2 separate regions of the Homo sapiens genome follow, and region 2 is linked to region 1. A link means that fine-mapping ties the variant in region 1 to the expression of a gene that starts in the linked region. Tissue or cell type: thyroid. Region 1 holds a variant in brackets; the other region holds the start of a gene. All regions are shown on one strand. Distances are between the middles of the regions. Region 1 overlaps LINC01250 (long intergenic non-protein coding RNA 1250). Region 2 holds the start of LINC01250 (long intergenic non-protein coding RNA 1250).

Region 1 (2,803 bases):
CCCACAGGTGTGGAGGGGCAACCCACCCCTTCTGCCTACCCTGGACTGCTGTCTCTCAGCCCGCTCCGTGGCTGTCACCCTGGGAATGAGTCTGCCACGGTCCCGGGAATCCTCTCCCTGCTCTGGGACCCTGGGTTTTCTGCGTCCTGTACTCTCTGTCTTTTGTTCATTCATTTGTTTTTTGTTTATGCTCTTTTTTGAGTCCAGTCTAAAACACTGTGTTTTTAGTCCTTGCACACCTGGAAATGGCTTTATTCTACGCAACGTGATCATTTTGCTGGCTGAAGAAATCAAAAGCTGAAGCGAGGCTCCATGGTTTTCGAGAAGCTGGTGCTGCTGAAATCCACACGCCACTCTCTTTCTTTTCTTTGCATGTGACCTGCTTTTCCTTTCTGGAAGTCTTTAAGATCTTTTATTTATTTATTTTGGTTGTTTAAAATTTTATACACAGTGGCGTGCATCCTCCCTCATTTACTCCGATGGGTACTCAGTGGGGCTTTTCAGGTGAGAAAAAATGTCTTGTATTGTTTCTTTGATCATCTCCTTCCATCCATCCTCTTTTTTGATGTTTCTATTAGTTAGATGTTGGACAGCCTGTGCTAATCCTCTACATCTTTAACATTTTCTCTGTTATTCTTCATCTCTAGCAGATTTCTTTTACTTTATTTTCCAATTTGTCCTTTGAATTTCATCTATCATCATTTTAATTTTTAAAGAACTTTCTTTTTCTTATTCTCTTGTATTCCTTAAAAAAAAAAAAGCAAATTCAATAGTTCCCTAGTCTGAGAGCATTTCTTGTATATAAATCTTTCTTCAATTTTTCTGTGTTTGTTTTATCATGTGTTTCCTCCTGATTCTGTTTCCCCTTTTGTTCTCTATTTCATGCTTGGCTGTCTGCTCATATTTAACAGCGAGGAACTAAACATTTATTGGAAGCTCCCTGTGCATGGCAGAGTTTGCCAACTGGTTGACCTCAGAGTCGGGTTATGGGGTAGTGTGACAGGTGAGTCTTAGTATCTAGAGGTGCTTTTTCCGAAGCTGTTCAGTGATTCCTAGCAAAACTCTCTGATCTATTGCTTGGGATTTAAGCCTGGTGTTAGCAGCCTACTAGCAGGAGTGTGGCAGAGGGTGGAGGGGTGGTGATGGATTTGGGAAGCAAGCTGAGGGGACAGGTTCCCAGTGTGTGGAGTTTAATTAACCCCATGGAGTCCACCTTCACCTTCACCTGGTGCCCCAGGCACAGGCCCCTGTTGTTAGATTTTCTCTAGGAAGTGTCTTTTGTTTTCTGCTCTTGGTGTGTGTGGTCTGGGGAGGGGTAGAGAATGATCTGTTGTGTGCATTTGGAGGACCCCTGGGTTATCCACCCTCTCTGTGAATTCTCACCCAATCCCCCATTCCCGATGTCGCTCCTCATCCATGCCCGCCCCAACCCCAGCTCCTTTCTGTGCACTGGTGCCCTCCAGGTCTGACTCTCCTCCCTGGGGGGAGCCAAGTGGTCCCTCCTCGGTCCCCTCGTAGCACAGCTGGGTGGTGGCCTTGGCTCGCTCCGTCCCACCTCCTATTCAGGCAGTCTTGCGTCACCTACCGCCTACA[G/T]CCCCGTTCTCTTGTTCTCTCTGCTCTTGTATGTTTACAGCTTTCTAATTCCTTCATGGCTGTTTAGTGGAGCCTGAAGGGTGGGGCCTCGTGTGGCCCGTCTGCCCTCCTTCAGGCTGTGCCGCACTGGTGCGTTTGGTGTGTGCTTGGTGAGAGTCTTTGGGTCCTGCTCGGAGGAGGCAGGAGCGTGAACGGCGCTCCCAGGGCCAACCAACGGTCTGTGGTCATCAGCAGGCCTGGAGCTGCCTGTGCAGGGTGGAGGGGGCTGTTCTGGTCTTGGCCTCACCTCCTCTGCCACAGCTGCAAGTTTAAGTGCCTAACCCATCAGGGTCAAACCCAGGGGAGTGCTTCCGCTGGCAAGAAGGCCCACACAGAGAGGCGAGCCCTGACTTCCGCTGTGCGCCCAGCACTGTGACCCAGAAGGCCGGCCCCAGCGTTGGTCCTCGCGGGACGCTTGTGTGGACCCCGGTGAGGAGCAAAGGTGAACATGCTTGTCGTGGTGCAGCACACAGTGACCTGCGGCTGATTCCAGCTTCAGCTTGTTCTCTGTAGACCAGAAAAAGGCAGCTGTGAGCAGCGTGCGGGGAGAATGGTCCCAGGGGCTCGGCCTCCCACCTGCCTGTCTCAGGACCCCAGGGCGCTCCGGACCCCAGGTCAGTGTGGGGTGAGAGGGGCACTTGTCTCTACTCCTGGCGCTGCTCTCCCCAACATGGGGGCTAGGGAGGGTTAAAGGGGGTGTGAGGTCATGTGCCCAGATGTCCCCTCCAGTGGTCTGGGCGGGCACCCTGGTGCTTGTGCCGACCCCTTGGCCCCCTATCTCTTTGCTTGTGTGTCTGTGTCCTCGTCTCCTCTTTGTGTGAGGATACCAGTCCTATTGGATCAGGGCCTACCCTGATGGCCTCATTTATCTTAGTTACTTCTTTAAAGATCCTTCTCCAAATACAATCCCTTCCTGAGGTGCTGGGCGTGAGGGCTTCGCCAGATGAGTTTCAGGGAACATGACATCGTGCTGGCTCCTCGGAGGCTGTGAGGGCGGGGTCTGCTGCTGCTCCTCTCCTGGTGGGCAGGTGGCCGTCCTCATCTTCATGGGGACATTCTCTTTGCATGTGTGTCTGTCTCCAAATGTCTTCCTTTACACGGACCCCAGTCGCGTTGGATCAGGGCCCACCCTGATGACCTCATCTTAGCTTGATTAGCTCTGGAAAGCCTC
Region 2 (2,803 bases), 23 kb before region 1:
AACACTGCTTCTTCGCGGGAGATGCGTCCTGTCAGGTGAACACCAGCAAATCAAAACCCAATTCAGCAGAGGGATGATTTTCGCCTTCCGGAAGATGAAATCACGAAAGCTCAGAGACGGCGCGCACTCCGTAGAAAGCCCAAATCAAATTATTCTGTGGCCTGTGTAGATTTCCTGTGCCTGGCACCCAGCTGCCTGCATACAGGAAGTGCTCATTACAGGCACAGCAGCAGATGTCAGCCCCAAAGTGTCCATTTTACTAGCTGGTGTTTCAGCATCTGTCACGGGGATCAACAAAGCATGACAGCCGCCAATGTGCCTCCGTGTGGACTTTTGTGATGCTGTATTTTCTCTTGAGAGGGGCCCCTGATTCTGGACAGAATGCACTGGGTAAGTCTTTACGACTTCGTAGCCCCAGGCTCCTGGCCCAGGCAGGATGAGGAAAGGATGCTGCCCCAGGATCGCCCGAAACGTTTGGTTTGTTTTGTGTGGCTGGACGTGGCCGAGTCCCTGCGGCCCCAGCAGCTCTCAGGCTTCCCTGCCCGGCTGCTGCCTCAGGGCTGCGCTGAGCTCAGGCCAGAGCAGCTTCCAGGGCCTCATTTCAGTTGTTTTTATCATCTATGAGTTATCCAGTGTTTCCAATAAATCACATTCCAGGGCAAGCAGTGCAGAGATGTGGGCCCTTATTTCCTCTCCCAGGCTGATAACAATGAACAAGTGATTTCCTGTCCAAAGCTGGGTACTCCAGCGAAATAAGAAGTCCTATCTCCAGGAAAATAACACTGTCTCTCTCTCAGCCCCAACTCCAGCACACCAAGCATGGACCGTCTCTGGCCCTTGGGCAAGCTGGAGCAGCCTTTCATTTCCTCTCTGCCTATTCATGCACGCCCCACCCATCTCCCAGTCCAGGCTGTGATCCTCACCACCCAGCAAGCAGGCGAGGCAGGGCTAGGAACCCATTTTACAGGTGAGAAAAGTGAGTTTGCCAGACATTAAGTGACATGGCCAGGGTCTCACCGGCAGTAAGTGGACAGGGCCAGGCCAGGTCGTCTCTGTGTTCCTAGGAGACCCTGTGATGACCACTCAGCCCCCTCTGCTGCTGCTGGTTGAGGTGAGAGGTGCTTATAACTCAGAGATCTTTGTCATTTGGGTTCTAAAAGCAAACTCCACCTTGTGACGCGCACCCCAATCCGCCAGCAGCTTCAGAAGCAGCATCTACCTGTAAGCTGCGCGGTCTCCCTCTCCCATCTCAACAACCTTCCTGTGTGCGGCTTCCCTCTCGGATCTGCACAACCCCCTTGTTGAGAAGAGGCAGCAGGAGCAGTGTGGGCGGTCATTGCCCTATTTTACAGATGAAGAGTCAGGGCATTTAAACAATTTGGTATGGATCTATACATAAGAGGGTGGAAGAGGCCAGAGGAGACCTAGACCTACTTATCTAAAACCCAGTCACTGATGCTGGGACACAGAACTGTCCTTCCTCGTCTGCCCCCTCCCTGCTCACGCTGTATTGGTGGAGACCTTGTCTCTCTTGGTGCCGTGGGAACAGCGCTGGGCCCACCCATCAAGGGCTCCCTGGAAGCGTGCTGAGCGTGTGGCATGAGGAAAGAGTCACCAGCCACCCACGTTGCCTCCACACTGGGTGTCATTGTGACCTTAGCAGACAACAGGGTCCTCCCGAGGAGAGAACACAGTAGGCACACTGGATGTGGGGAGAGGGTCCAAAAGCCCCAAGCAGGGGGCAGGTCTGGGCAGAGGAGAAGGCGCTGTGTCTGTGGTGGCACTGGATGCCTCGGAAGGTGTGTGGCCTCCCTCCATGGCTGCCCAGGACCCAGGGTGCTGACCGTCTCTCCTGGAGTATGGCAGGGCCCAGGGGGCTGAGGCAGGGCCCCTTTTGGCAAATTCTTCACTCATAGAGGTTTCATGTCTTTCTCTGTAAAATGAGGATGCGAACATAGTTTGTCTTTCAGGATAGCTGTGATTAGAACACGTGTGTAAAGCGCCTGTCATGGCAGCGTCCTTCTCCTGGCGGCAAGTCTTCACTTGCAAAACAAGTCCTTTTAGGTACAGCAAAAACTGCTGCACGCAAGGGGGTGGAGGGGAACGATGGAAGGCGGTGTTGAAGGGTGGGGTGGGGAGTGTGCAGAGGCACTGGAAACAAACTTTTCCAATTTCTGTTATGCCTAGGAACAGGCTTTGTGACAGCTGCTGCTATCCAGTCATCTTTAGAGCCCTGGAGTCCTCGCCAAGGGCACGGGCTCCCTTTGTGGTCCTGGAATAATGGGGCCTGCCTGGCACTCTCAGATTGCGTGGGGATCCGCTGGACTTAGGGTAAGGCTTTTGTGGGATAAACTGCAGTGGCGCTAGATCAATTGTCAAGGTTTGGCCGACTCATTTGAGAGACTGGGTTCACGCCGTGCCATTTCTTCTTCCCGTTGCAAGGCTCTGCAAGGAATGTGGTGTCAGAATTTTAGCGCCTCGTATTTCCCACAAATGATAGCAGTAAGCTAACCGCGCGATAGAGACAGCGCTTCATGTTGTGCAATTTGATTTGCTGAGATTCCCAGCTCTTGCGTCTTTGAAACGGCGGCTCTGTGCAGAGATGAGATGGTGTTCCCAGCTCATCGCAGCGTGCGTGGTAATCTTATGTTCAGGCACACACTCTTTTTGGAGAAAACATACATTCTTTAGTATTCATGTGGATTTCACAGCAGTAATGAGGAAACTCTATTCCTTAGAGAATGTTTTTAATGTTAAAAAAAAAAGGATGGCATTCTTGGGAGGCATTTTAGTTTTCCCGTTT

What was found.
Region 2: LINC01250 starts here. The variant in region 1 is fine-mapped to the expression of LINC01250 in thyroid (GTEx, PIP 0.93).

Annotation. Positions count from the first base shown.
Region 1 is chr2:3,101,708-3,104,510 of GRCh38, reverse strand. All of the region lies in intron 3 of LINC01250 (long intergenic non-protein coding RNA 1250), which reads left to right. Among named protein-coding and RNA genes, the nearest start is that of LINC01250, 23 kb to the left of the region's middle. RefSeq lists an enhancer at 1,769-2,553. The variant G/T (reference allele first, on the strand shown) is at 1,594.
Region 2 is chr2:3,124,823-3,127,625 of GRCh38, reverse strand. LINC01250 (long intergenic non-protein coding RNA 1250) reads left to right here and starts at 1,600. Exons shown (of 7, transcript NR_110228.1): 1 at 1,600-1,799; 2 at 1,971-2,064; 3 at 2,188-2,331. RefSeq lists a silencer at 55-219.